Regions from separate parts of the Homo sapiens genome. Here all the other regions are linked to region 1. The links come from fine-mapping of genetic effects on gene expression. A gene starts in region 1. Each other region holds a variant in brackets. All regions are shown on one strand. Distances are between the middles of the regions.

What was found.
Region 2: its variant is fine-mapped to the expression of GSDMC in skeletal muscle (GTEx, PIP above 0.99).
Region 3: its variant is fine-mapped to the expression of GSDMC in left ventricle (GTEx, PIP above 0.99).
Region 4: its variant is fine-mapped to the expression of GSDMC in thyroid (GTEx, PIP above 0.99).
Region 5: its variant is fine-mapped to the expression of GSDMC in skeletal muscle (FUSION, PIP 0.95).

The regions. Positions count from the first base shown.
Region 1 is chr8:129,783,407-129,789,679 of GRCh38, forward strand. It overlaps GSDMC (gasdermin C), which reads right to left and starts at 3,218. Exons shown (of 14, transcript NM_031415.3): 1 at 2,605-3,218.
Region 2 is chr8:129,731,593-129,737,865 of GRCh38, forward strand. It overlaps a transcript of GSDMC not described here. Among named protein-coding and RNA genes, the nearest start is that of GSDMC, 52 kb to the right of the region's middle. The variant A/T (reference allele first, on the strand shown) is at 2,464.
Region 3 is chr8:129,721,304-129,727,576 of GRCh38, forward strand. It overlaps a transcript of GSDMC not described here. Among named protein-coding and RNA genes, the nearest start is that of CCDC26, 44 kb to the left of the region's middle. The variant A/G (reference allele first, on the strand shown) is at 3,305.
Region 4 is chr8:129,742,408-129,748,680 of GRCh38, forward strand. It overlaps GSDMC (gasdermin C), which reads right to left. Exons shown (of 14, transcript NM_031415.3): 14 at 5,789-6,273. The coding sequence ends at 6,094. Among named protein-coding and RNA genes, the nearest start is that of GSDMC, 41 kb to the right of the region's middle. The variant A/G (reference allele first, on the strand shown) is at 3,495.
Region 5 is chr8:129,714,277-129,720,549 of GRCh38, forward strand. It overlaps a transcript of GSDMC not described here. Among named protein-coding and RNA genes, the nearest start is that of CCDC26, 37 kb to the left of the region's middle. The variant C/CT (reference allele first, on the strand shown) is at 2,974.

The DNA.
Region 1 (6,273 bases):
AATCAACATCCAAAAATCAGTAGCACTTCTATATGCCAACAGAGAAGAATCTGAAAAAGAAATCAAGAAAGTAATTCCATTTACAAGAGCTACAAATAAAATTAAATTCTTAGGAATTAATTTAACTGAAGAAGTAAAAAATCTCTTCAATGAAAACTATAAAACATTGATGAAAGAAACTGAAGAGGACACAAAAAATGGAAAGATATTCCATGTTCATAGATTGGAAGAATCAATATTGTTAAAATGTCCATACTATCCAAAGCAATCTTCAGATTCTATGCAAATTATATCAAAATATCAATGACATTCTTCACAGAAAGAGAAAAAACAATCCTAAAATTTATATGGAAACACAAAAGACCCAGAATAACAAAATCTATCCTGAGCAAAAAGAGCAAAACTCAAGGAATCATATTATCTGACATCAAATTATACTACAGAGCTACAGTAACCAAAACAGCATGGTACTGGCATGAAAACAGACACACAGACCAAAGGAAAAAAATCGAGAACCCAGAAACAAATCCATATACCTACAGTGAGCTCATTTTTTACCAAGGTGCCAAGAACATACATTAGAGAAAGGACAGTCTCTTCAATAAATGGTGCTGGGAAACCTGGATATTCATATGCAGGAGACTGAAACTAGACCACTCTCTCTCATCATGTACAAAAATAAAATCAAAATAGATTATAGACTTCAATGTAAAGCCTCAAACTGTGAAACTACTACAGGAAAACACTGGGGAAACTCTCCAGGACATTGGTCTAGGCAAAAATTTCTTAAGTAATACACCACCAGCACAGGCAACCAAAGCAAAAATAGACAAATTGGATCTCATCAAGTTACAAAGCTTCCCTCCAGCAAAGGAAAAGATCAACAACAGAAAAAGAGAACCCACAGAATGGGAGAAAATATTTGCAAACTTCCCATCTGATAAGGGAATAATAACCAGAAAATATAAGGAGCCCACACAACTCTATAGGAAAAAAATCTAATAATCAGATTAAAATATGGGCAAAAGAGTTGAATAAACATTTCTCAGAGGAATACATACAAATGAAAAAAAGGCATATGAAAAGGTCCTCAACATTATTAGTTATCAGAAAAATGTAAATCAAAACTACAATGAGATATCATCTCACCCCTGTTAAAATGGCTTATATCTAAAAGACAAGTAATAAAAAATGCTGGAGAGAAGGTAGAGAAAAGGGAAACTTGTACCCTGTTTGTGGGAATGTAAATTAGTACAGCCACTATGGAGAACAGTTTGGACCTTCCTCAAAAAGCTAAAAATAGAGCTGCCATACAACCCAGCAACCTCTCTGCTGGGTGTACACCCAAAAGAAAGAAAACCAGTATATTGAAGAGATATCTTCACTCCCATGTTTGTTGCAGCACTGTTCACAATAGCCAAGATTGGGAAGCAATGCAAGTGTCCATCAACAAATGAACAGGTAAACAAAATGTGGTACATATACATAACAGAGTACTACTCAGCCATAAAAAAGAATGAGATTGGCTGGGTGCGGTGGCTCATGCCTGTAATCCCAGCACTTTGGGAGGCTGAGGCGGGTGGATCAACTGAGGTCAGGAGTTCAAGACCAGCCTGACCAACATGGAGAAACCCCGCTCTACTAAAAATACAAAATTAGCCAGGCATGGTAGCGCATGACTGTAATCCCAGCTACTTGGGAGGCTGAGGCAGGAGAATCACTTGAACCCAGGAGGCGGAGGTTGCAGTGAGTCGAGATTGCACTGTTGCACTCCAGCCTGGGCAACAAGAGCAAAACTCCGTGTCAAAAAAAAATGAGATCCTGTCATTCGCAACAACATAGAGGGGACTAGAGGTCATTAAGTGAAATAAGCCAGGCACAGAAAGACAAACTTTACAATGTTCTCACTTATTTATGAAAGCTAAAAATTAAGACAATTGAAGTTATGGAGATAGAGTAAAATGATGGTTACCAGAGGCTGGGAAAGATATTAGGGGGTGGGAGGGAGGTGGGGATGGTAAATGAGCACAAAAAAAATAGTTAGACTGAATAAGATCTAGTATTTCTGAATAAGATCTAGTATTCGATAGCACAACAGGGTGACTATAGTCAATAATTGTACAGTTAGAAATAACTAAAACAGTATAATTGTATTGTTACAATTAAGAGTATAATTGTATTGTTACAATTATAACAAATAGGAATAGGACTTCCTAACTACATGGAATTCAGTTTTTGAACTTTCTAAATATGTTCAATAATGAAGAGAGACAGAATTTTCAACAGTTCATGTAAAATTCCTGATGTGACCATTTCAATTCTCTGATATGGGCCATGTAAGAGGTCACTGGACAAGCAGAGAATAATGAGAATATAAGATGCTTCTTTAAGACTGGACCTGTGCAATAATGTATCGAAGATATATTCCTTAGCCTTACATGCTATCAGGAATTCTCCATTATTAAGACGAACTTAACTTCCTTTTCAGTCAAATTCTGTAGGAAAAAAAACTCTTCGACTCATTTCACAAACCCATCCAGAACATTTTTGTCGCTGATGATAGTAATCTTTTCTTTTTCATCCCCTGATCCCATTAGGACTTACCAGATTATATATCCCTTTGTCCTGTAGAGAAATAGCAGGATTGGCCGGGCACGGTGGCTCACGTCTGTAATCCCAGCACTTTGGGAGGCTGAGGCCGGTGGATCACGAGGTCAGGAGTTCAAGATCAGCCAGGCCAAGATGGTGAAACCCTGTCTCTACTGAAAATACAAAAATTAGCCAGGAATGGTGGCAGGCACCTGTAATCCCAGCTACTTGGGAGGCTGAGGCAGAGAACTGCTTGAACCCGGGAGGCAGAGGTTGCAGTGAGCTGAGACCATGCCGCTGCACTCCAGCCTGGGCAACTCCGTCTCAAAAAAAAAAAAAAGAGAGAAAAATAGCACAATTGAGTAGGGCCCCTTCCAATCTTCAGACCTCCTGCGGTCAAGTAGAAATTGTCAGACAAACTCCAGGACCAGATCAATGTGATTCTGTTCACTGTTCTCTTCTCACCAATGGGTCCCTGACTCAATTTCCAATGCAGTATCCTGGAAAAATAAGCACAGGAGGGCCCTGTTCATTTCCAGAAGAGTAAGTCTGGAACTAGTTCTGGATCACAGAACCTTAGCTCTCAAGTCCTCAGCAAAAAGTCTGTGGAACAAAATCAAGTGGCATCTAATTATGTATCTCCTGAATCAGAATTAAAAAGGCTTCCTCAGAGTCACACCCATTTCCTTTCACATACAGAACTAGCTGAGCAAGTCTTTGATTCATGGATTCCCAGCAACTCTAGCTGGAACAACTTCTTTGGCTCGTATTCCTCTGGTATATGTGCTGAATTTAGAATTCAATCACTGGACACCAGGAAAGGCAACTTCAGCAGGAGGGACAGGCACTAGCGCCAGGGCCCTGGGAAGCACCTCTGAACTGCCTACATGTGGGGCTCTGTACAACAGGAATTACTGTGCTTAATGCCTCCTCTGTGTTAAGCACCATGCATGTATTATCTAAATCCAATCTTACAACAATCTTTATTTTAAATATAAATAAAAAGGGGATTTGTGAAAGGAATTAAAAACTTGCCTGAAACCCATGTCCTTTCCAATTACTCCCTATGGGTTTCAAGATGAAGTAAAGTGCCTATAGGAGCAGAAACTGTATAAACAGGATTGCTACACCTTTAAGTTTTGAGTAACTTCCTGGAACTGACACTCAATACAGCAACATTCCTTTCAGCTGACAGTATTTCACAATGCATTTACTTTACTTTTGTTTTCTTTTAATATTCATAAAAGTCTTATGCCTTCCCTTTCCACTGTAAGAACCTGATATGCACTTCACTTGGGACAAAGCTCAGACTGTGCTTTCTGCATATCACCACCAGACACGATGTTCCAAATTAACTTTCACGTTCTATAATTTCCATTGTAAAAACTATAGACTTGAAATATAAAATTATAATTACATACATAACCCTTCTGTGTACCAACATTCTATAGGCCCCAACCTGCTATTGGGTATTCCAGAAGTCGGAGAAAAGTAACTTAGCTGTTTGGGAACAGTTATGTGAGTCACACCAACCTAAATAACAGATAAAGAAAAGCTCTCTAAAAGACAGTGATATTTATTCAAGAATGAGCATTGCAATGGGAATATGCGTGCCATCACAAACTATGTGTGTATTCAGACAGGTAAGGGAAGAAAAAAGTTTTAAAAAGAAAAATAAGAAGGATTACACAATTGTTTTGAATCAATTCTTTGCTTACAAGGATCAGTAACAAAGGTGGCACCAGTCCAAGGTTAGACAGGCAGTTGGTGGACAGATGTCCTGGCAGAAGTATTTTTTGTTTAAGGTTGCAATAGCCTTTGTGCAAAGCTGTAGTTTTTAGTTTTGTTTTGTCTTTAATTTTTATGGGTACATAGATGTATATATTTATTTATGGGATATATGGGATATTTTAATACAGGCATACAATGTATAATAATCACACCAGGGTAAATGAGGTATCTATCATCTCAGATATTTATTTTTTGTGTTAAAATATTATACTCTTTTAGTTATTTTTAAATGTACAATTAAATTATTATTGACTATAGTCAATAATATATTGTGCTATCAGACATTAGATCTTATTCCTTCTAAATCTTTTTGTACTCATTAACCATTCCCCCTACCCCTGCACACCCACCCCACTACCCTTCCTAGCGTCTGGTAACCATCATTCTATTCTCTATCTCCGTAAGTTCAGTTGTTTTAATTTTTAGCTTTCACAAATAAGAGAGAACATGTAAAGTTTGTCTTTCTGTGCTTGGCTTATTTCACTTAACATAATGACCTCCAGTTCCATCTATGTTGTTGCAAATGACAGGATCTCATTCTTTTTATGGCTGAATAGTACTCCATTATGTATACGTACCATTTTTTTTATTCATTCATTTGTTGATGGACACTTGGATTGCTTCTAAATCTTGGCTATTGTGAGTGGAACTGCAATAAACATGGGAGTGCAGATATCTCTTCAATATATTGATTTCCTATTTTGGAGGTATATACTTAACAGTGGGTTTGCTGGATCATACGATAGTTCTATTTTCAGTTTTTCTGAGGAAGGCCCAAACTGTTCTCCATAGTAGTTGTACTAATTTACATTCCCACAAACAGTGTCCAAGGGTCCCCTTTTCTCCACATCCTCTCCAGCCTGTTATTGCCTGTCTTTTGGGTAAAATCCATTTTAACAGATGTGAGATGATATCTCATTGTAGTTTTGAATGGTGTTTCTCTGATGATCAATAATGTCGAGCACATTTTCATATGCGTGTTTGCCATTTGTATGTCGTCTTTCAAGAAATGTCTATTTAGAACTTTTGCCCATATTTTAATTAGTTTATTAGATTTTTTCCTGTATAATTGTTTGAGCTCCTTGTGTGTTCTGCTTACAAATCCTTTGTCAGATGCTTAGTTTGCAAATATTTTCTCCCATTCTTTGGGTTTTCTTCTTCTGTTGTTGATTGTTCTTTGCTGGAAGGAAGCTTTTTACTTTGATATGGTTGCATTTGTCCATTTTTGTTTTGGCTGCCTGTGCTTGTGGGGTATTACTCAAGAAATGTTTGCCCATTCCAATGTCCTGGAGAGTTTCCCCAATGTTTTATTGTAGTAGTTTCATAATTTGAGTCCTTAGATTCAATTATTTAATCTATTTTAATTTAGTTCTTGTATATAGTGAGAGATAAGGGTCTAGTTTCAGTCTTCTACGTGTGGATATCTAGTTTTTGCAACACCATTTATTGAAGAGACTGTCTTTTCCCCAATGTATAGTCTTGGCACCTTTGTAAAAAATGAGTTCACTGTAGGTGTATGGATTTGTTTCTGGGTTCTCTATTCTTTTTTCATTGGTCTATGTGTCTGTTTTTATGACTATACCATGCTCTTTTGGTTACTATAGCTCTGTAGTATAATTTGAAGTCAAGTAATGTGATTCCTTGAGTTGTGTTCTTTTTGTTCAGGATAGTTTTGGTTATTCTGGGCCTTTTGTGTTTCCATATAAATTTTAGGATTGATTTTTCTCTTTCTGTGAAGGATGTCATTGGTAGTTTGATAGAGATTGTATAGAATCTGAAGATTGCTTTGGGTAGTATAGACATTTTAACAATATTGATTCTTCCAATCTATGAACATGGAATATCTTTCCATTTTTTGTGTCCTCTTCAGTTTCTTTCATCAATGTTTTATAG
Region 2 (6,273 bases), 52 kb before region 1:
AGGTATCTGTTGGAGGATTCTCTTTTTCTTGGAAGAGGACAGTCTTTTTTCTCTTCAGCCCTTCAACTGACTGGATCAAGCCCACTAACATCGAGGAGGGCAGTCTGCGTTATTCAAAGTTCACTGATTTAAATGTCAATCTCATGTAAAAACACCCTCACAGAAACACCCAGAATAAAGTTTGACCTTATAACTGGAAAGTCAGAGCAAAAGTTAAATATCTAAAATTTTAAAAAAATATATGACCAAATAGTTGGGCACCCTGTGGCCCAGCCACATTGACACCTAAAATTAACTGTCACAGCATCCTCTTAGAAGCAAGAGGAGAAGCAAGAGAAGCCCCTTTATTCTGCAGTGTCCCTCTACCACCACCTACTGACAAAGAACGTGGTGCTGTCTGGCAAAAGGGAAATGTTCAGTTTGCCATGACTTGAATGTGTCCCCTCAAATTCAAGTGTTGCCAATACAATAGCATCAAGAGGTGGGGCCTTTAAGAGGTCACTGGGCCACAAGGGGTTCTCTCTCAGGACTGGGATTAAGGCCCTTATAAAAGAGCCTTCAGGGAGCATCCTGCTAGCTTGCTTTCTGTATGTGAGAACACAGCAAGAAAGCCCTAGTCGAACAAGTGCCAGATCATTGATCTTAGATTTCCCATCCTCCAGAACTGTGAGAAATATATTTCTGTTCTTTATAAATTAAAAAAAAAAAAAACTTGCTGAAAGAAGTGCAGAGGGCTATAGAAGGAAAGCCAAAAGACCCTACCCAGCATTCTCTACAGTTACACCCCCTAGGGAGGGGGGAAAAGGGAAAGAAAAAATAATACTATTATAGGGAAATAAAAAGAAAAACTCCTACCCACACTAAAATAATTACAAATATTAGAAGTGCCAAGGTCTCCAGATGAGAAGGAACCAGCACAAAAAATCTGAATGTAGTGACACCACCAAATGATCACACTGGATCTACAGCAATGGTCTGTAATCAAAATGGAAACTCGGAAATGACAGATAAAGAATTCAGAGTATGGATTGCAAGGAAGCTCAATGAGCTCCAGGACAAGGTTGAAAATCAACACAAAGAAACTTCTAAAGGATTCTCTTCCAAGATGGCCGAATAGGAACAGCACCGGTCTGCAGTTCCCAGTGTGATTGATGCAGAAGACGGGTGATTTCTGCATTTCCAACTGAGGTACCTGGTTCATCTCAATAGGACTGGTTGGACAGTGGGTGCAGCCCACAGAGGGCAAGCTGAAGCAGGGTGGGTCATTGCCTCATCCAGGAAGTGCAAGGGGTCACGGGATTTCCCTTTCCTAGCCAAGGGAAGCCGTGACAGACTGTACCTGGAAAATCAGGACACTCTCTCCCAAATACTGTGCTTTTCCAATGGTCTTAGCAAACAGCACACCAGGAGATTATATCCCGCATGTGGCTCAGCAGGTCCCACACCCACGGAGCCTTGCTCACTGCTAGCGCAGCAATCTGAGGTCAACCTGCGAGGCAGCAACCTGGCAGGAGAGGGAGGTGTCCGCCATTGCTGAGGCTTGAGTAGGTAAACAAAGCAGCTGGGGAAGCTCAAAGTGGGCAGAGCCCACCACAGTTCAGCAAGGTCTGTTGCCTCTGTAGATTCCACCTCTGGGGGCAGGGCATAGCTGAACAAAAGGCAGCAGAAACTTCTGCAGACTTAAACATCCCTGTCTGACAGCTCTTAACAGAGCAGTGGTTCTCCCGGCATGGTGCATGAGCTCTGAGAATGGAAAGACTGCCTCCTCGAGTGGGTCCCTGACCCCCATGTAGCCTAACTGGGAGACACTTCCCAGTAGGGGCCAACTAACACCTCATACAGGCGGATGCCCCTCTGGGATGAAACTTCCAGAGGAAGGATCAGGCAGCAATATTTGCTGTTCTGCAGCCTCTGCTGGTGATACCCAGGCAAATAGGGTCTGGAGTGGACCTCCAGCAAACTCCAACAGACCTGCAGCTGAGGGACCTGACTATTAGAAGGAAAACTAACAAACAGAAAAGAATAGCATCAACATCAACAAAAAGCACATCCACACCAAAACCCCATCTGTAGGCTGCCAACATCAAAAACCAAAGGTAGATAAAACCACAAAGATGGAGAGAAACCAGAGCAGAAAAGTTGAAAATTCTAAAAACCAGAGCGCCTCTTCTCCTCCAAAGGACGACAGCTGGTGAGGACCAGCAATGAAACAAAGCTGGATGGAGAATGACTTTGATGACCTGACAGAAGTAGACTTCACAAGGTCAGTAATAACAAACTTCTCTGAGCTAAAGGAGGATGTTCAAACCCATCACAAGGAAGCTAAAAACCTTGAAAAAAGATTAGATGAATGGCTAACTAGAATAAACAGTGTAGAGAACACCTTAAATGACCTGATGGAGCTGAAAACCATGGCATGAGAACTACGTGATGCATGCACAATCTTCAACAGCCGATTCAATC[A/T]AGAGGAAGAAAGTGTATCAGTGATTGAAGATCAAATTAATGAGATAAAGTGAGAAGAGAAGTTTAGAGAAAAAAAGTAAAAAGAAATGAACAAAGCCTCCAAGAAATATGGGACTATGTGAAAAGACCAAATCTACATTTGATTGGTGTACCTGAAAGTGATGGGGAGAATGGAACCAAGTTGGAAAACACTCTTCAGGATATTATCCAGGAGAACTTCCCCAATCTAGCAAGGCAGGCCAACACTGAAATTCGGGAAATACAGAGAACACCACAAAGATACTCCTCGAGAAGAGCAACCCCAAGACACATAATTGTCAGATTCACCAAGATTGAAATGAAGGAAAAAAATGTTAAGGGCAGCCAGAGAGAAAGGTCAGGTTACCCACAAAAGGAAGTCCAACAGACTAACAGCAGATCTCTCAGCAGAAACTCCACAAGCCAGATGAGAGTGGGGGCCAATATCCAACATTCCTAAAGAAAAGAATTTTCAACCCAGAATTTCATATCCAGCCAAACTAAGCTTCATAAGTGAAGAAGAAATAAAACCCTTTACAGACAAGCAAATGCTGAGAGATTTTGTCATCACCAGGCCTGCCCTAAAAGAGCACTAAACATGGAAAGGAACAACTGGTACCAGACACTGCAAAAACAGCCAAATTGTAAAGACCATTGATGCTAGGAAGAAACTGCATCAACTAACAAGCAAAATAACCAGCTAACATCATAATGACAGGATCAAATTCACACATAAAAATATTAACCTTAAATGTAAATGGGCTAAATGTTCCAATTAAAAGACACAGACTGGCAAATTGGATAAAGAGTCAAGACCCATCAGTGTGCTGTATTCAGGACACCCATCTCACATGCAGAGACAGGCTCAAATAGAGGGATGGAGGAAGATCTACCAAGCAAATGGAAAGCAAAAAAAAGCAGGGGTTGCAATCCTAGTCTCTGATAAAACAGACTTTAAACCAACAAAGATCAGAAGAGACAAAGAAGGCCATTACATAACAGTAAAGGGATCAATTCAACAAGAAGAGCTAACTATCCTAAATATATATGCACCCAATACAGGAGCACCCAGATTCATAAAGCAAGTCCTGAGTGACCTACAAAGAGACTTAGATTCCCACACAATAATAATGGGAGACTTTAACACCCCACTGTTAATATTAGACAGATCAACGAGACATAAGATTAACAAGGATATCCAGGACTTGAACTCAGCTCTGCACCAAGTGGACCTAATAGACATCTACAGAACTCTCCACCCCAAATCAACAGAATAGACATTCTTCTCAGCACCACATCGCACTTATTCCAAAATTGACCACATAGTTGGAAGTAAAGCACTCCTCAGCAAATGTAAAAGAACAGAAATCACAACAAACTGTCTTTCAGACCACAGTGCAATCAAATTAGAACTCAGGATTAAGAAACTCACTTAAAACCACACAACTACATGGAAACTGAACAACCTGCTCCTGAATGACTACTGGGTAAACAACAAAATGAAGGCAGAAATAAAGATGTTCTTTGAAACCAATGAGAAAAAAAACACAATGTACCAGAATCTCTGGGACACATTTAAAGCAGTGTGTACAGGGAAATTTATAGCACTAAATGCCCACAAGAGAAAGCAGGCAAGATCTAAAATTGACACCCTAACATCACAATTAAAAGAACTAGAGAAGCAAGGCCAAACAAATTCAAAAGCTAGCAGAAGGTAAGAAATAACTAAGATCAGAGCAGAACTAAAGGAGATAGAGACACAAAAAACCCTCAAAAAATCAATGAATCCAGGAACTTGTTTTTTGAAAAGGTCAACAAAACTGATAGACCGCTAGCAAGACTAATAAAGTAGAAAAGAGAGAAGAATCAAATAGACACAATAAAAAATGATAAAGGGGATATCACCAACAATCCCACAGGAATACAAACTACCATCAGAGAATACTATAAACACCTCTACTCAAATAAACTAGAAAATCTAGAAGAAATGGATAAATTCCTGGACACACACATGCTCCGGAAGAAATTGAATTTTTGAATAGATCAATAACAGGCTCTGAAATTGAGGCAATAATTAATAGCCTACCAACCAAAAAAAGTCCAGGACCAGATGGATTCACAGCCGAATTCTACCAGAGGTACAGAGAGGAGCTGGTACCATTCCTTCTGAAACTATTCCAATCAATAGAAAAACAGGGAATCCTAACTCATTTTATGAGGCCAGCATCGTTCTGATACCAAAGCCTGGCACAGATGCAACAAAAAAAGAGAATTTTAGACCAATATCCCTGATGAACATCGACGTGAAAATCCTCAATAAAATACTGGCAAACCAAATCCAGCAGCACATCAAAAAGCTATCCACCACGATCAACTCAGCTTCATCCTTGGGATGCAAGGCTGGTTCAACATATGCAAATCAATAAACGTAATCCATCACATAAACGGAACCATCGACAAACAACACATGATTATCTCAATAGATGCAGAAAAGGCCTTCGACAAAATTCAACAGCCCATCATGCTAAAAACTCTCAATAAATTAGGTATTGATGGGACGTTATCTCAAAATAATAAGAGCTATTTATGACAAACCCACAGCCAATATCATACTGAATGGGCAAAAACTGGAAGCATTCCTTTTGAAAACTGGCACAAGACAGGGATGCCCTCTCTCACCACTCCTATTCAACATAGTGTTGGAAGTTCTGGCCAGGGCAATCAGGCAAGAGAAAGAAATGAAGGGTATTCAATTAAGAAAAGAGGAAGTCAAATTGTCCCTGTTTGCAGATCACATGATTGTATATTTAGAAAACCCCATCATCTTAGCCCAAAATCTCCTTAAGCTGATAAGCAACTTCAGCAAAGTCTCAGGATATCAAATCAATGTGCAAAAATCACAAGCATTCTTATACACCAATAACAGACAAACAAAGAGCCAAATCATGAATGAACTCCCATTCACAATTGCTACAAAGAGAGTAAAATACCTAGGAATCCAACTTACAAGGGATGTGAAGGACCTCTTCAAGGAGAACTACAAACCACTGCTCAATGAAATAAAAGAGGACACAAACAAATGGAAGAACATTCCATGCTCATGGGTAGGAAGAATCAATAGCGTGAAAATGGCCATACTGCCCAAGGTAATTTATAGATTCAATGCCATCCCCATCAAGCTACCAATGACTTTCTTCACAGAATTGGAAAAAACTACTTTAAAGTTCATATGGAACCAAAAAAGAGCCTGCATTGCCAAGACAATCCTAAGCCAAAAGAACAAAGCTGGAAGCATCACGCTACCTGACTTCAAACTATACTACAAGGCTACAGTAACCAAAACAGCATGGTACTGTTACCAAAACAGAGATGTAGACCAATGGAACAGAAAAGAGCCCTCAGAAACAATACCACACATCTACAACCTTCTGATCTTTGACAAACCTGACAAAAACAAGAAATGGGGAAAGAATTCTCTATTTAATAAATGGTGCTGGGAAAACTGGCTAGTCATATGTGGAAAACTGGCTAGTCATATGTAAAAACTGAAACTGGATCCCTTCCTTCCACCTTATACAAACATTAATTCAAGATGGATTAAAGACTTAAATGTAAGACCTAAAACCATAAAAACTCTAGAAGAAAACCTAGGCAACACCATTCAGGACATAGGCATGGGCAAGAACTTCATGACTAAAACACCAAAAGCAATGGCAACAAAAGCCAAAATAGACAAATAGGATCTAATTAAACCAAAGAGCTTCTGCACAGCAAAAGAAGCTACCATCAGAG
Region 3 (6,273 bases), 62 kb before region 1:
TTTCACTCCCACCCCTTTGCCTTACTCCAAATCATTTTCCTGACTTCTTTGTTTCTGTTAAGAACAGACAGCACCATCTTCTTAATCATCTGGCTGAAGCTGGCAAATCCTACTGCCTTACTCTTCTCTCCTTCATCTACCACATCTTCTTGTAATTCTTCTCAAAAGCATCCTCAATTTTAATTATTTTACAACTTTTAGTGTTAAAGACTTGATACTGCTCAATATTCTAGTGTATTAGCCCATGATCTTCTTGTGGAAATGGTAGAAATTCCAACTCAAATTACCTCTCATAAAGATAATAATTTGTGGGAAAATGTAACTGAAAATTAGACTTCAGACAGGGCTGGATCCAGGTCCTCATTACTACCAAATATCACTCTCCATATTACTGCTCTAGTTCTCTCTGACTTGACAGCACTCTCAGTCACTTTTTCTTATGTAATAGCAAACAGAACTTTGGGTTTACATCCTACCAACTGGCAACCCCATTGGTAAGAGGATACCTCACTCATGGTTCCAGCAAACACTCTATGAATGATCGTTGTGGTTTCAGAACAATGCGCTGTATGTTTTCTCCTTGGCCAGACCTAGTTCACTAACCCCACCCTCAGAGTGGGGGTTAGATTAGCCCCACCCAAATCACAATGACTTAGAGTGGAAAAGACGGTCCCCAAAAGCAGAATTGAAGAGCTACTACCCTAAACTGAGAAAGGACAGCTAGTTGGCCAAAAAAATTAAAAACATATAAAATATCCCTCCAGTATGTTCCTTTATGGTATTTCTTAATTCCAATTTCATTCCAGTTTAAGTCACTCTATTCCCTGTTTGCAAATTAATCTTAAAGATACATTTGATTATTTCTTCCCACTGTTGATGAGTGTTCAATGACTCCTCACTAGAAGCCCTACGGTGCTCGGGGAATAGCAATTTGCAAGCAAGTGTGAAAAATTTCAGAGCCCTCCTTGAATGAGAGGGAGAGATTTTGAAAGAGGTGAAGCTTTAATGAATAATCAATGTGGGTGAGTGAAGGAGTTACAGTTTTATTTCTGGTAGCCCAACTGGACACCTTGGGTTAGTGTAGCTTATAAACAAGTCTGTTACATAAGAATTCACCTGTCATGGATGGGATTCATAGAAAAGCATCCAGAAAGGCAGAATTTGGCAGCTCTGAGTTTCCTGTGTAGCTGTCAAAATCCTTATTTCACCTACTGGAGTCCTTTGGCCCTTCTACTGCCCCAGGAGAGCTACATGAGTTTTTCTCTCTTTCTCATATGTCATGAGCCCCACTAGAATGCAATACTATGAGGACAAGGAATGTGTCTATTTTATTGATGTCTATATCCCAATGCCTAACAGAGCACCTGGAAAATTGTACCTTTAATATTTATTGAATAAATGAATGAATGAATGGTAAATGCCAAACAATGTCTTTCTCACTTCAACATATGTTAACCCAGAGTCTTACATATAGCATAGTCTTGCATACAGATGGATTTAACTTTTTTCAAAACACATATTTAAAAAGGATTCTAGTCATATGTTTTTGTTTGGGGCCAGCGAAAATTTTGAGAATTAAGCTGATTTGAATTATCTACGCACCAGAGTTCTAAAATTGATAGATTCTAATCATAAAACTGTAGAATGTTCACAAACAAGAGGGAGGTACTCACCACATTCTATTTTTCTGTGCCATTCCCATTTCAGTGTAAGCACCACTGAAAGCAAACACCAAAAACATTTTCAAACAAATGTTATCTATTCTTAGATGTGAATCATGCCACTGTTAGCCAACCATGAGTAAAACTACCATCGTGCATGCACATCCTTCCTCCCAACCTAGAAAAATTCTACCCGTCCCAGGGTCTTCTGACCTTGACACTCACCCTCTGCACTGCTAGGTGGCCATCCGGGCTCAGCATCTAGCAGTTTTTTTGTTTCTGTTTTTGTTTTTTGAGATGGAGTCTCTCTCTGTCGCCCAAGCTGGAGTGCAGTGGCATGATCTCGGCTCACTGCAACCTCTGCCTCCCGGGTTCAAGCTATTCTCATGCCTCAGCCTCCTGAGTAGCTGGGATTACAGGCATGTGCCACCACGCCTGGCTATTTTTTCTTCTCCTTTTTTTTTTTTTTTTTTTTGTATTTTTAGTAGAGACAGGGTTTCAACATCCTGGTCAGATTGGTCTCGAACTCCTGACCTCATGATCCACCCGCCTCGGCCTCCAAAAGTGCTGGGATTACAGGCATGAGCCACCGCGCCTGGCCGCATCTAGCAGTTTTTTACTGCTTGGGAAACCTAGTGAATTTTAATGCCATTGATCAACTCTGCTCAAACACTCCTGGCATGAACTGAGCAAAGCCCTGGTTCCTAGGCAGCCATTACAAAAGCACAAGGATTTCCAAAATAAAAAGAGACCCAGAGCACACTTGAATCAAGGGCAGTTGCACTGTTTATTTGCAAGTGATTGGATTGCACCCCTACCTTGGTTAAATGGTTTATTTCTCTATGAATTACTCTAGAAAATACTACTACTCTAGCCCTTCCAATTTTTAACTAAGCTGAAAGTATTTTTACTTTTTCCAGACTCTCAGTGAGGAAAGAATGAGGTATGTTTTAATGCTGGAACTTCTAGCAAATAGTAAGTGTTCAATAAATACTTGTTGAATTAACTAATTAATTAATATGTGGGCACAAAAGCTTGCTTTTGCATCCTAAAGCAATCATGGCCTCTGGGGAAAGCCAGGCTTGCTGTATCCTGAGGCAATCACTCACTCTGGAGAAATCCAGCCTCCATGTTGAGAGGGCACTCAAGCCATCTATGGAGAGACCACATGGTTAGGAACTAAGGCCTCCTGCCTACAGCCATGCAAGACAGCCATCTTCAAAACAGATCCTCCAGCCTCAATTAAGCTTTCAGGTGACTATAGCCCTTGCCAACATCCAACTGCAGTCACATGTAAGACCCTAAGCCAGAACCAGCCAGGTAGGCCATTCCCAAATTCTTAACCAGCAGAAAGAGGAAAATATAAGTTAAATGTTTATTATTTTAAGCCATTACGTTTTGGGGGTGATTTGTTATGCAATAGATAATACAATCTATTTGTTTATCAATAGATTATATTGATAACACAATAGATAATACAATAACAATTTGTTTGCAATAGATAATACAATCTTCTTTCACCTTGTCTGAGATGACAGCTTATTAAAATACAAACTCCTGGAAGGCAGGTTTTCTGTCTTATTCCCTCCTGTATTCCTGGTATCTTGTATGCATCCAATAAACAATGAGTAACAACTCACTTA[A/G]TGACAAGCTGGTTCCTAATTTTGTATAGAAAACTATATATGTTCACACACAGAAACAGAAGTAGAATTCTTCAAAAAAATGATACTTTTTAGCGAAAAAGCGTTAGATAGCATAATTATCCAAAAAGGAACTATTGGAAATTATGGAAAAAAATGTTATTAGAATTCACATAATCCTCCTCCCTTACTGGGGTGGGAGGGAGCTACCTATAGAAGGAATACAGGGCCTTGAAGTATTCAAAGAAATAACAATTAACAAAGGGCATAGTTTGAGGAGCCCAGCTTCTCATGAGAAGAAAAAGGCATTGCAAGGTGGCACAGAGGGACTAAGATCTCAAGCTCTACTTGGAGGTTTTCTTGAAGTGCTCCTGAAGCAATATCATAAAAGGAATTTGAGAATACAAGGCCAGTTGAACAAGTTAACCCTTCAGCCCCTTTCTAACTTGAGCTGTTGTGATTGCTCCTGTCCTCTGCTAGCCTGAGAAAGCTCAAGAGGAAGACCATGGGGCCACCATTTTCCACATTCACATTCACACATGCCCTCTCTCCATCAAGTATCTTATTAGACTATCTGTTGGAGTACAGGCTAAATAAGTGTCCTCAAATAAGTGATGGTGAATAATGGCAGCACGTCCCTGTCCTGTTCCCTGACAATAAAGCTGGTATAGATTAAAGGCAAGATTTATCCTCCCTGGAACCTCAGGTAATGAACTGACTACCTGTATTCAAATCAAAGACACACTCATGCGTTCTTTTCTTTCTAACAGCTCAATTTCCAGAGTTGATATTGTGTACTCTGCCACATGCTGTGAGGTATGTAAGAAAAGTGGCATGTGGCCTGGCATCTCAGTTACTTATCACCCCCCTCCAGAGCCAGGGAGCAGTTTCAAATGTGTTCGATTGCCCAAGATCTAAAAATTAAAAATAGTAATTTAAATGTCCCAGATCAGAAAATCATATTCTTCTCTTCTTTCCATTTGTTGCTTTTGAGTCTCGCCACGACCACAATATCAGGTACACAGCAGGCCTCTAAAACTCAATATTACTATTGCTGTTAGTTCCATTGATTCAAGAAAAGCTTGTTGGGCATCAACTATGTGCTAGCACTATACTAGGTTCTTTATATACACTATTTAATTTATGTCAATAGCAATCCAATGCGCTGGGGAAAATGAAGCTCAAAGATTTTGAATTATTTACCGGAGGTTGCAAAGTTAGGGATCGGCCCAACTCCAAACCCAGGTTTTTCTGGTTAGCCCTGCTGCCCTAATCAATACAGTCTTTTAAATGAAGAAGAACTTTGTATCCACCAAGATAATGAATCCCAAGATTCTCACCACCCCTGCTTTCTTATGTGTTAACCAAGATTCCAATGTTTTGAAAGACTTTAATTGCCTGGCTGAATTTATTTAAAGAGAATATTCCTCTGCTTATGGAAAAATATTTGAAACTCCCAACCCAGGTCTTTGCTCAACATGAGACAATCAGATTTATCACAGAATCCATAATGATCCTAGCATAAGCAGTTGACATTTTACCAAGGCATGGCTTTTCTGAAATATTGACAATTGTTCTAAGTTCCTCATCATTCTGGTCTTACCTCCCAGAGATTTTTAAGGGAGACATTTAATACAATCAATGTAGTGTTTCAAGAAGGAGGTTCTATTCTGATATTAATATAAAAGGAGACCAGTGTTAGGCCCTCAGTTGATGCCCCACTTCTCCCAGCCCACTCCATGTTAACCCAGCAAGGAGAAAGACATGGAAGAGGGGAGGCAGGAGGGCAGGGTGTGAGAGAGAGGAGATGGCCTTGAATTCAGTAGGTCCGGAAGCATATAAAGGAGAGTGGCAGGCAGCACCAAGCATCCTGCTGTTTGACAATGCTGCCACCTTCTGGCATATATTGGAAATTTACTAGAAAAATATTACTAGTCACTGTCATTTTATAGATAACCCAGAAAGATGTGATCGGATATACGAATAAAGTTTGTTTTAATTACCTCCAAGGTATTCCTGGTATCTATTGAAACTAGAATTCAATACACTTACTTTTCAAGCTCCTGTCTTTTAAAGTATTCCATACTGTGCGTGGACGATTAGAGAAACTTCCTGGATGTCATACTTACCTCCATGCAGGCTCCCTTCCAATCCAGTCCCTCCCCCCACCCACCCCCTGCCTCTAGCAGTCAGAGTCTCCATGACTTAATTTCACTTGGAACAAATTCAAATGTGTTTCTCTGGCCCAGGAAGGATCCCAAACTGGTAGCCTGCAAGCCCAGTTACAGCAGCTCAGCTTTTATATAAATGACCAGAATAGTGTTTTAAATGACTACAGTGGGATACCCCCATGTCTCAGTCTTCCAGCAACTTCCCAACCACACCCAATACACATACACACACACACACACACACACACACCTATTCACATACTCATTTACGCACATGGCCCCTGAAGTCAACAAAGTTTACTTGGAAATTTACATTCATCCAGAACCTCAGAATGTGCCCTTATTTGGAAATAGAGCCCTTGCAGATGTATTTAGCTAAAAAGAAGTCATGCTGGATTAGAGTGAGCCCTAAATCCATGACTTACGATGGACATATAAGGACATATAACTTATGTCCTTATAAGAAAAGACAATTTTTTTTCAAGATGGTGGATTAAAGCCTTTTAGTGTGTGCTCAGCCACTTGGAAATAGCAAGACAGTGCATAAAGATCAACTCTGTGAGCTTAATTCAAGAAGGAAAATGGGAATCCACCAGAATTGTGAAGGACATTCCAAATCCCAGGGAGGAGAACGCCGGCAAACAGCCCCCATGACAGTGTATGGCTGATAAAAGTAAGTGAAGCCCCAGTACGTGAGAGAGAAAGAGAACCTCCCTCTGTAAGTCACATTTCCGTGGGGATCCGAGAAAGACAGGCCGAGGGAGAGCACTTTGTTTCTCTCAAGCTGTGGAACTAAGTTGG
Region 4 (6,273 bases), 41 kb before region 1:
AAAGTAATATTCATTTTAGAAACAAAAAATCTGTTCAATAATCTAATGATATCTCACTTAGTCAACACACAATTGCAAGCCATCCAACCAGGGTCATTCTACAGGTCTCTAGGGTTTTCTCTCTGTACAACTCTTTCTTCTCTGTACTCTGTCCTGAAAACTCTAGCTGCCTTGGCTTCCCCAGACTCTCACCTTCATCCATTCAACTCGAGGAGGTTCTTAGGCTGTTCTTGGGTTCCTCCTTCCTGTGCCATGCTGGAAACTCTCTCAAGACAGTAATCTGGGGCAATCAGAGGGCTCACCTTGGTTTTCTTCCATTTCTCAAGGCTCACTGTCCTTTTTAACTGCTGTCCAATTACTTGAAAACCATTATTTCATATATTTTGTGGGTTTTTTAGTTGTTTCCAGCAGAAGGAAAAATCCAGTCTCTGCTACTCCATGTTGGCCAGAATCAAAAGTTTACTTTCATTTTTGAAAGTTATTTTGCTGAAAATTATTGTCAATTCTAGATTGATAGTTTTCCTTTATTTTGCTTTGCTTTTTATCATGGATTTGCATTATAATCATCAATAATTGTAACCTTTCTTTCTCTGAATGCATTGGGTCTTTCTGTGCCTGCTTTTAAAGTTATCCCTTTATCATTGGTTTTCAGGAATGTGATTATTGTACATCTTGGGATAGTGTTCTTGTGTGCTTATCCTGTTCAGAGTTCACCAAGCCATTTGGGTCTGTGGAGTTTGGTTTTTATTACATTTTCATTAAATTTTCAGCACGTATTTCTTTTAAGTATTGTTTTTGCTCACTTTAGTTATGGGGCTCCAATTACATGTGTTATATCGTATCACAGGTCCTTGAAGGTCTTTGCACTTTTTGTTTTTTGTGCTTCAGTTTAGCTTCTATTACTATATCTTAAATTTCATTTATCATTCCATCTGCATTACCTATTCTACTAACAAGCCTGTACAGTGTATTTTTATTTCACACATGATATTTTTTAGCTCTAGACATTCCATTTCGTTATTTTCAATTTATTCTTTTCTTTCCTCAATAGGCTTCTGTTTTCTTTTAAACACTTGAGCATATTTATAATAAGCTGTTTTAAAGTCCTTATCAGCTAACCCACCATCGTCATCCCATCTGTCATTTCTGTATTCTGTTTATTAACTAATTGATATGTTATAGATCACATTTACCTGCCTCTTCCCATGTGTAGTAATACTGGAATTGTGAATGTTGCATTATTGAATGTGTCTGGATTTTGTTGTATTCCTTTAAGAAGTGTTAAATTTTGCTTTAGCTGGCAACTAGTTATATGCAGATCCACTTGATTCTTTTGAGGCTTGTTTTTATACTCTGTTAAAATGGGGTTTATACAGCCTCCACTCTACATCTTATCCCTTCTACTAAGACATGATCCTTCTGGGACTTCTAATGAATGTCCTGAGTGTTCAATGAGTTCTGTCCATGGTAGCTGGTTGAAACCCAAATATCTGCCAGAACCAGTCAAGCTCTAGAAATTTTGCAGGCTACAGCTAGCTGATAGCTTTTAAATCTACTATTTTGAAGCCTTATGCTATACATGCACAAGTTAAGTATTTAGACCAAGGCTCAAGGTACCCTATGTAAGTTACTGGATAATACTCCCTCTTTCCTAGAACTCTGCCCTAAAAATGTTAGTTCCTTTGGCCTCCTCAACCTCCTATCTCTGTGTTGTTAACTCAGAGAGACCACTCCACCTTATACAGGTTTCTCTTTCTGAACTGTGGTTCAGAATGTGCTCCAGGCAGAAACCTGGGGCAATCTTAGGACTCCTGTTTGTTTGCCTGTGCTTCCTATTACACAATATCTGAAAACAGTTGTTTAGTATATTTTGGTGAGGTTTTTATTTATTTGCAGAAAGAGAGCAGATTCACTAAAAGCTATTTAATCAAGCTAAAAGTGAAAGCCTACTCAATATTTTAAGAAATATATCTGAAGGTTGATGTCTGCTCTAGAGATGGAGGTTAGGTAATTATTTGAAAAATAGACAGCAAATGAAATAGTAACTGTGAACAATATTGCCCAGGAAATGTATAACAGTTAGAATTGGGTTGAGAGAGAAGTAATGCAGATCCAACATAATGGTAATTTCAACAAGAAATTGATTTTCATTCATGCAGAAGTAAAAAGTAGGCAGTGTAGGGCTGACAGCGCAGCTGTGTTTCACAAAGTCCTCAGGAACTTAGTCTTCCTCCAACTCAATGCTCTGCCCTCCCATCTGTATTCCAGCAGACAAATGAATAAAGGGACTAGTAAGAGACAAGGAAGGCACACACTAACCGTCTTTAAGAATGGTTTCTGGATATTAACTCAGAAAACTGCTGCTTACATCCCCCTTGTCATATGGCCAACCTAGCTGTATAGGAAACTAGAAAACATACTATTTCTTCTGAATGACCATGTGCTCATTTAACAATGCTATCATACTGGTAGCAGTGGAAAATGGATATTGGAAGTCAATATTTTGTGTAGACACTCGTTTCTCTGCCACAAATGTATAAAGAGAATAGATGAGACCTAGAGAGGTCCACTGTTTAAGGATGAATAAGTATAAACATAGCCTATAAGGGATAATGGGTTGCCTACCCTGACTGTCTCTCACGGATTTCTTCCCACTCCCTCTTAAATCAATTCCAATCAAGTTTTCTTACTACAAGCCCATGAAAATTGCTTTTGTCAAAGTTATCAATGACCTCAATGTAGCAAAATTCAATAGTCAGTCCTCAGTTCTCCTCTCAATCTATTAGCACCATTTGATCTATTAGCACTGTTTATATCACACTTAATGAAGTTTTTGAAACCTTTTTCATATGGCTTCCAAGTGTCACATTCTCTCCTAGTTTTCTCCTTACTTTACATTCAGTCTTCCTCATCTTCTTTGATGTTCTCTCCTCTTCACTCAACCTCTAAACAGTAGGGTTCCCTAGGGATTCGTCTCTGGAACTTCTTACTCTCTCATAGTGATTTTTCACTGCTTCCTAAGTGGTCTTATCCAGCCTCATGACTTTAATACATCTATAGTGTCTGTGCTCAAATGATTGTCTTCAACTCAGGCATCTTCCCGAATTATATGCTACAACCTTAATATCTCTACTTGGATAAATAATGACACTTGTTACTTTCTAATATACTATATAATACATTTATTTATTTTCTCTTTTTTTCCACTGAAATATAAAATCAATGGGAAGTGGAACTCCAGGTGCATAGAATAATGACTGGAACATACTAGGCCTTCAGTAAATAATGTTTAGTGAATAAAAAGAAATAGGTGATAGGGAAAACAAGAGCACTACTTCTCTGCAGCCACAAAAGGAGGAAATTTGAAGAAGGAGTGAGTAGTTCATAGTGTATAATTCACCACAGAGAATGTTTAAAATCGTAGAAGGTGAAAGAGAGGCCGGGGCAATCATCCAAGACTGCCCAGACCCCCAGGTGAGCCCTCCTGCCGTTCT[A/G]CATGCCATGACCTTAAGCACTGGAAAACACAGGTTTCAATCCATAGTTTGCAGAGGAACAGAAACCATCTCATTTAATTGATAAAAGAGTTGAGAAAAACTCATTTACCCTATTGTCTTTGTGCAAATATAATTTGGACAGAGCTGCCCATGCTGAGGATGAGCATGGTGCGGGGTAGGGGAGAAGGTGGGAAGTGACAGAGATTCCATACAAGCACACTACAGGAAAAGAAGAGAGTGGAGGAATCAATTCAGGTAGAAAACATAGCTCAAGAAAAAGAACAGTTTTATGCCATGGAAGAATCTAAGAGAAATACTTTAATAAGGTAAAAACCTCAAAGCTGCAAAGATACAACAACAGAAATATGTGAAAAGAGAGACTGTAAAGCTAAGGAAAAGAACTGAAGGTCACAACACAATATCTGAACTGATGAATTGGAAAGTAATTATAGTTGAGAGTTGAGTTATAGACATAGAGGAAAGAGCTGCCGTGATCTCAGAGAATGCAGACGAAAAAAAATCAAAGATGCAAGAATTAGACAAGATAATGTATGGAGAATCCTAAAGGACAATTGGTATCTGTGAGGTAGGGAACCTAACAAATAGAATATAAAAGATATTTAATTATTATAAGAGGAAATTTTCCTGAAAGGAAAAAATGAATCTGTAGCTCCCAGGAAAAGTGACATAGAGTGACTGAGACACAGGTATTGCCTGGTTAAAGTGCTTAACTTCAAGGATGAAGAAAGAATTCTTCAGGCATACATTTAGATGTATATGCAAAGAGTTTGGGAAAATTTGACTAGCCTTGTTCTTCTTCAAAGCATCAATAAGTCAACGGGAGACCTTTGCATGGCTACAAAAGACTGAGGGCAAGAAGGTGTTACCTGCTACCTAAAAATATAATCTCTCTCCAAGGAATTCTTCAAGAACAAAGGCAAGAGGCAAAGTTTCTCAAATATGAAGGGACTTGGGGAGTGAAGCACTACTGAAAAAATTATTTGATCACAGCCATTCAAGGAATAAAACAAAATGACTGATACTTACCAATGAATAAATTTAAACAGACTGGGAACGGTGGCTCACACTTGTAATCCCAGCACTTTGGGAGGCCGAAGCAGGCAGATCACTTGAGGCCAGGAGTTCAAGACCATCCCGGCCAACATGGTGAAACCCTGTCTGTACAAAAAAAAAAAAATACAAAAATTAGCCGAGTGTGGTGGTACATGCCTGCAATCCCAGCTATTCAGGAAGATGAGGCACAAGAATCACTTGAACCTGGGAGGTGGAGGTTGCAGTGAGCCGAGATCGTGCCACTGCATTCCAGCCTGAGTGACAGAGCAAGACTCTGTCTCAAAAAAAAAAAAAAATTTGATAAAGAATTAACACTAAACAGCCATGAGGGATACGGTTACACTCCTTGGCAATTTACAAATAATAAAATAATTGGAGATAGGAGATGATAGAAGAGCAAGATGGGAGAAGAACTCATTTTCTTGCCTTTTTTAGCAGAAAAAAAGTAAACACTGTTTAAAAGTGAAGACATGATGTGAGCAATAGGGATTACTGGAATACACTAGAGTGAAGTGGTGATTAGTCACTTCATTATTGTCATGTGAAAATGTCAGCCAAGGTGATTCTGATGAGACGTCATATTTAAAATCTTGGTTGATAATTCTAGATGACAGGGAGCATCTAAAGGATTTTAGGCAGAGGAGTGACATACAAAGGTTGCATTTTTAAATTATTCCCCATGCCTGCTGTGATATGAGCCTCCAGGATTCAAGGAAAATTTGAAGAGAACAAGATGGTGGCAGGACAACCAGCTGGGAGCACGAGACCAGCTGTCCAGGTGAGAAGAGGAGGGCTATGGTGAGTCGGCTGGACTGTGTTGATTGGGGATTAAGGAGAGGAGTCAAGGTGGACTCCCAGGTTTCAGCTTAGGAGGCGAGGTGGCATTAGCAAATGACACAGAGAGCACAGAATGAGACAGATACATGACCAAGAAAATGTGACAAAATATTAATAATTGAGGAATATGCACATACACACACACACACACGTGGGGGCTAACATTTAATGTGAAACAATTTCGGACTCACAAAATGTTTCCAGGAAAAAAAAAATCTCTTCTATATCCTTCACCCATATTCCCCAATTACTAATACTTTATCACATTTACTTGGTCACTTATCTGTCTATCATCAAGTCAACTTACTTTTTGTTGCATTTCAATGTAAGTTACCGTTATCGGTACACTTCACCCAAAACAATTCAAAATGCACACCATTAACTAGAGTCAGTATTTGTTTTTATTATTTTGAAGTAAAATTTATACATAGTGAAACGCTTACGTCTTTAACATACTATTTGAGGAGTTTTGACAAATATATAAACTCTTGTCAATATATAAACTCTTGTCAATATATAGAGTATTCCACCACCCCAAAACATTTCCTAAAGTCTCTACCCATTACTGTCTCTACTCCACCTGGAAACGCAGAGAGGCACAGCCCTATCTCTTGCACCCATAAGGACACTCACAGCATAGACTGGGCGAGGGCCAGCATCTCTGGACTGACTGCCCATCAGGGAGGGCTTAGGCCTCAGCCAGCTGCTGCAGCAACGAGAGAGTCCCATAGAGGGCAGACAGGGGCATCTTTGCTTCTACATCCCAGGTTGACCTGGGGTTATCCAGCTCCATCCTAAGGCCACACTCCTCCAGCAGGCCATAGGTGATGGCCAAACCCTCACTCTGGAGTGGGGCGAGGAGCTCAGG
Region 5 (6,273 bases), 69 kb before region 1:
TTATTGCCGCTCCAGAGATAGTTCAGTGCCCATCACAGAATGTGGGCTTAATAAATCTTTATTCAATGAGTAAAAAGACAGAAATAGTCTGTTTTTATTAATTCACTCATTCATTCATTCCTCCGTCCATCCATTCATCCAACCAGTGTTTCTCAAAGGGAACTTGTTACAAAGAGAGAGCTTCTTTCATGACCAGTGCCTGGGAGGCAAAAGAGACTTTAATAATGTTTTATTTTCACTGTGTATCTTATTGTTGTCATCTATCTATAGCAAGTGATACTGATTTTCCATTTATGGTAGTGATTTCAAGTTTCATTTTGTCCAAATTTCTTCCTCCAAAATAAGAAGTCGATTTAAATTTAAAAACTTCAGTAAATAAACACACAGATTTTATAATTACATGGCCAAAATCCTCTAAAATGAAGACATTCTCAGATGAAAGATGGCTAAGAGGATTTGTCACCAGCAGACCTGCTTGAAAAAAATTGCCAAAGGAAGTTCTTCAGGCTGAAGAGGAATTATATCAAAAGGAATAAAACTTTGGAATTAAAAGAAGAGTGGCATAAATGTAAATAACTTGATAAATATAGAGATGATTTTTCTTCTCTTAAATTCTTAAAAATATGTACAACGATTGAAAGCAAAAATTCTAACATTGTCTGGGAGGTCTCCAATGTAATAGACATAATATACATGTCAATTATAATACCAAGGGTAAGGTTAAAATGACCTGAATGATGGTAAGGCGTCTATGCTTTACCTGAAGTGATAACATATTAACTCTAAATAGAATGTGAACATTTAGGTGTGTATATTGTAAAGCTCAGAAAAACCACTAAAATAATATAAATATTAAGACACAGGGTCATAAACAGTGTCTCTTCCCCAACCTAGATGTGAAAGCCTTATGATTTTCTGGGCAGTAGACAGAATACTCAGAGGGTCTTCTTAACTCAGTAGTGGAAAATAATCAGTCCTAGACTAAACACTGTTCTGGCCCAGCCTATAAAAAAGACATAAAAGCAACACTCCAAAAAATCTGTTTCCAAGTAACTTAACAGTGTCCCAGAACAAGACTCTGTAATATAGGAACACAAAAATATCCAGCATCAAACAGGGTAATTAGAGTCCCTAAATGAGAGTGATAGGAGACAGAAAAAAAAATATTTGGAGAAATATTTCTCTAAAATGTCCAAATTTGATGAAATCAGTAAACCCACAGAACAAGAATCTCAAAACCCTGAGTACAAGTAGTGAAAGAAAAACTATCAACCTAGAATTCTATGCCTACCTTAAATGAGTTTCAAAATCAAACTAAAATAAAGTCAAAAGAAAAACTTTTACAGATATATGAAAACTAAACAAATTTATTCACCAGCAAAGCTGCATTACAAGAAATACAAAAAGACATCATCATTTAGGCAGAAGGAATATGATATCAGACGGAAATGTGGATCTACGCAGTTGAAAAAATACCCCTGGAAGTGGTAACTGCATGAGTAAACATATAAGATTTTTTATTATTTAAATATCTTTAAACAAACTAATCTGTTTAAGCAAAAATAATAACAATGTAGTACAGGTTTTATAATACATGTACAAGTAGAATATATGTCAAAAATATCATAAGGTTGTAAGGAGAAAAATAGATAATGCCATTGTAAGTTTTTTATACTGTACATGAAGTAGTATAATATTACTTGAACCTAAAGCAACTTCTAAAATAACAATACAAAGTTATAGCAAATAAGCCAACAAAGAAGATAAAAAGGAATTATTTGTTTAAAAAATTACTCATTCCGAAAGAAGGCAAGAAAAAGGAAACAACATATGGGCAATTTTTTTAAAAAGTGGCAAGATGATAGACTTAAACATGCCATATCAAGAATCCCATTAAATGTAAGTGGTCTAAATATCCAAATTAAAAGGCAGAGATTTTCAGAATGTGGGAAAAAGCAAGACACAATCATATGCTTTCTACAAGAAATGTACTTTAAATATGAAGACACAAAGAGATTAAAAATAAAAAGGTAAGAAAAGATATAATGTATTAATACCAATCAAAAGAAAGATGCATTTGGTATTTTATTCTCTTTGTAGCAATTGTGAATGGGAGTTCACTCATGATTTGGCTCTCTGTTTGTCTATTAGTGGTGTATAGGAATGCTTGTGATTTTTGCACACTGATTTTGTATCCTGATACTTTGCTGAAGTGGCTTATCAGCTTAAGGAGATTTGGGGCTGAGACAATGGGGTTTTCTAAATATACAATCATGTCATCTGCAAACAGAGACAACTTGACTTCCTCTCTTCCTATTTAAATACCCTTTATTTCTTTCTCTTGCCTGATTGCCCTGGTCACAACTTCCAATACTATGTTGAATAGGAGTGGTGAGAGAGGGCATCCTTGTCTTGTGCCAGTTTTCAAGGGAGTGCTTCCAGGTTTTGCCTATTCATTATGACATCGGCTGTGGGTTGGCCATAAATAGCTCTTATTATTCTGAGATACATTCCATCAACACCAAGTTTATTGAGAGTTTTTAGCATAAAGGTGTGTTGAATTTTATTGAAGGCCTTTTCTGCATCTATTGACATAATCATGTAGTTTTTGCCATTGGTTCTGTTCATATGATGGATTACATTTATTGATTTGCATATGTTGAAGCAGGCTTGCATCCCAGGGATGAAGCTGACTTGATCATGGTGGATAAGCTTTTTGATGTGCTGCTGGATTCGGTTTGCCAGTATTTTATTAAGGATTTTTGCATTGATGTTCTTCAGGGATATTGGCCTGAAATTTTTTGTTGTTGTTGTGTCTCTGCCAGGTTTTGGCATCAGAATGATGCTGGCCTCATAAAATGAGTTAAGGAGGAGCCCCTCTTTTTCTATTGTTTGGAATAGTTTCAGAAGGAATGGTACCAGCTTCTCTTTTACCTCTGGTAGAATTTGGCTGTGACTCCATCTGGTCCTGGG[C/CT]TTTTTTTTTTTTTTTTTTTTTTATTGGTAGGCTATTAATTACTGCCTCAATTTCAGAACTTGTTATTGGTCTATTCAGGGATTGGACTTCTTCCTGGTTTAGTCTTGGGAGGGTGTATGTGTCTAGAAATTTATTCATTTCTTCTAGATTTTCTAGTTTATTTGTGTAGAGGTTTGTATTTCTGTGGGATCAGTGGTAATACCAGCTTACAAGGGATGTGAAGGAACTCTTCAAGGAGAACTACGAACCACTACTCAAGGAAATAAGACACAACACAAACAAATGGAAAAACATTCCATGCTCATGATAGGAAGAATTAATATCGTGAAAATGGCCACACTGCCCAAAGTGATTTATAGATTTGATGCTATGCCCCTCAAGCTACCATTGACTTTCCTCACAGAATTAGAAAAAAACTACTTTAAATTTCATATGGAACCAAAAAAGAGACCATATAGAAAAAACAATCCTAAGCAAAAAGAACAAAGCTGGAGGCATCATGCTACCTGACTTCAAACTACACTACAAGGCTACAGTAACCAAAACAGTATAGTACTGGTACCAAAATATACATATATATACCAGTGGAACAGAACAGAGGCCTCAGAAATAACGGCACACATCTGCAACAATCTGATCATTGACAAACCTGACAAAAACAAGCAATAGGGAAAGAATCCTCTATTTAATAAATGGTGTTGGGGAAACTGGCTAGCCATATGCAGAAAACTGAAACTGGACTCCTCCCTTACACCTTATACAAAAATTCACTCAAGATAGATTCAAAACTTAAATGTAAGACCTAAAACCATAAAAATCCTAGAAGAAAACATAGTCAATACTATTCAAGACATAGGCATGGGCAAAGACTTCATGACTAAAACACAAAAAGCGATGGCAAAAAAAAGCCAAAATTGACAAATAGGATCTAATTAAACTAAAGAGCTTTTGCACAGCAAAAGAAACTATCAACAAAGTAAACAGGCAACCTACCAAATGGGAGAAAATTTTTGCAATCTATCCATCTGACAAAGGGCTAATATACAGAATCTACAAGGAATTTAAACAAATTTACAAGAAAAAAACAAACAACCCCATCAAAATTGGGCAAAGTATATGAACAGACACTTCTCAAAAGAAGACATTTATGCGGCCAACAAACATATGGAAAAAAGCTCATCATCTCATCACTAGTCATTAGAGAAATGCAAATCAAAACCACAATGAGATACTACCATCTCACACCAGGTAGAACGGTGATTATTAAAAAGTCAGGAAACAACAGATGCTGGAGAGGATGTGGAGAAATTGTAACGCTTTTACACTGTTGGTGGGAGTATAAATTAGTTCAACCATTGTGGAAGGCAGTGTGGAGTTTCCTCAAGGATCTAGAACCAGAAATACCATTTGACCCAGCAGTCCCATTACTGGGTATATAACCAAAGGATTATAAATCATTCTGTGATAAAGACACATGCACACATATGTTTACTGCAGCACTATTCACAATAGCAAAGACTTGGAATCAACCCAAATGCCCATCAACGATAGACTGGATAAAGAAAATGTGGCACTTATACACCATGGAAATACTATGCAGCCATAAAAAAGGATGAGTTCATGTCCTTTGCAGGGACATGGGTGAAGCTGGAAACCATCATTCTCAGCAAACTAACACAGGAACAGAAAACAAAACACCACATGTTCTCACTCATAAGTGGGAGCTGAACAATGAGAACACACGGACACAGGGAGGGGAGTATCACACACCGGGGCCTGTCAGGAGGTGGGGGGCTAGGGGAGGGACAGCATTAGTAGAAATACCTAATGTAGATGACGAGTTGATGGGTGCAGCAAACCACCATGGCATATGTATACCCATGTAACAAACCTGCATGTTCTGCACATGTATCCCAGAGCTTAAAGTAAAATAATAACAAAAAAAATCTTGAAAAAGAAAGATGCATTTGGCTATATTAAATTCAGACGAAATGGACTTCAGAAGACACAATATTACCACAGATTATAATGTTCATTTCATAATAATAAGAGATCAATTCATCAAGCAAACATAACAATTCTGAATGTTTATGTACCTAATAATAGAATTTCAAAATACCTGAAGTAAAAACTGATAAAACCAAAAAGAGACGTAGAAAAATTTACAATTATGGTGTAAGATTTCAATATCACTAACTCAGTAATTAATCAAACAAATTGACAGAAGATTGGTAAGGAAACTGAAGACTTGATCAATACTATCAACTAACTTGACCAAATTAACATTTATAGAATCCACCACTCTATATAAGCATAATACACATTTTTTTCCAAGAGTACATGGAATACTTACGGAGGTAGATCACATTTTGGGTCACAAAATAACTCAATACATTTAAAAACGATTCAAGTGGCCAGGTACAGTGGCTCACACCTGTAATTCCAAAACTTTGGGAGGCTGAGGCAGGCAGATCACTTGAGGCCGGGAATTTGAGACAAGCCTGGCCAACATGGTGAAACCCCGTCTCTACTAAAAATACAAAGATTAGCCAGGTGTGGTGGTGTGCACCTGTAATTCCATCTACTCAGGAGGCTGAGGCACAAGAATCTCTTGAAATCAGGAGGCAGAGGTTGCAGTGAGCCAGTATCACTTCACTGCACTCCAGCCTGGGCAACAGAGCAAGACTCCATCTCTAAATAAATAAATAAGTAAATATCCAAGTCACATAACTACTCCAATAACAAGTGTTCTCATCCATAAATGGGAACAATATCTACCCTTTAGGAGTCCCTATGAACAATTCGAAACAATATGTAAAAGAATATGAACAGAAAAGACACTCAATCATGTAACTATTATAATGTGCTCAAGGTAGCCAAGCTAGAAAGTAGACAGGATCCAGAGTAGAAGCCCTAGTCTGCCAAACATCAAAGTCAATACTTCCCAATATACAAATCAGATACCCTCACAGTGTTTTGGTGAGAAGAAATAGAATAGTGCTTGTGATCATCCTTTGTAGGCTAAAGACCACAAATTCACATGTAGCAAATAATTACTATTATTATCAACATTTGAGGTTATGAATTTGAGTATGTACAATGTCCTGATATCAGGATGTATCAAAAAGTTTCTTTTTTTGTCTAAATTCTCATTTAATAGAGTATGTTTTAAAAGCCAATAACTTGATTGTCTCCTGAGTACTGTAATAAACATATACACGTTCACATCCACATAAATATATTGTGTATGAATATACATATAAGAATAATTCCACATACATAAAATATTAATGTTATTC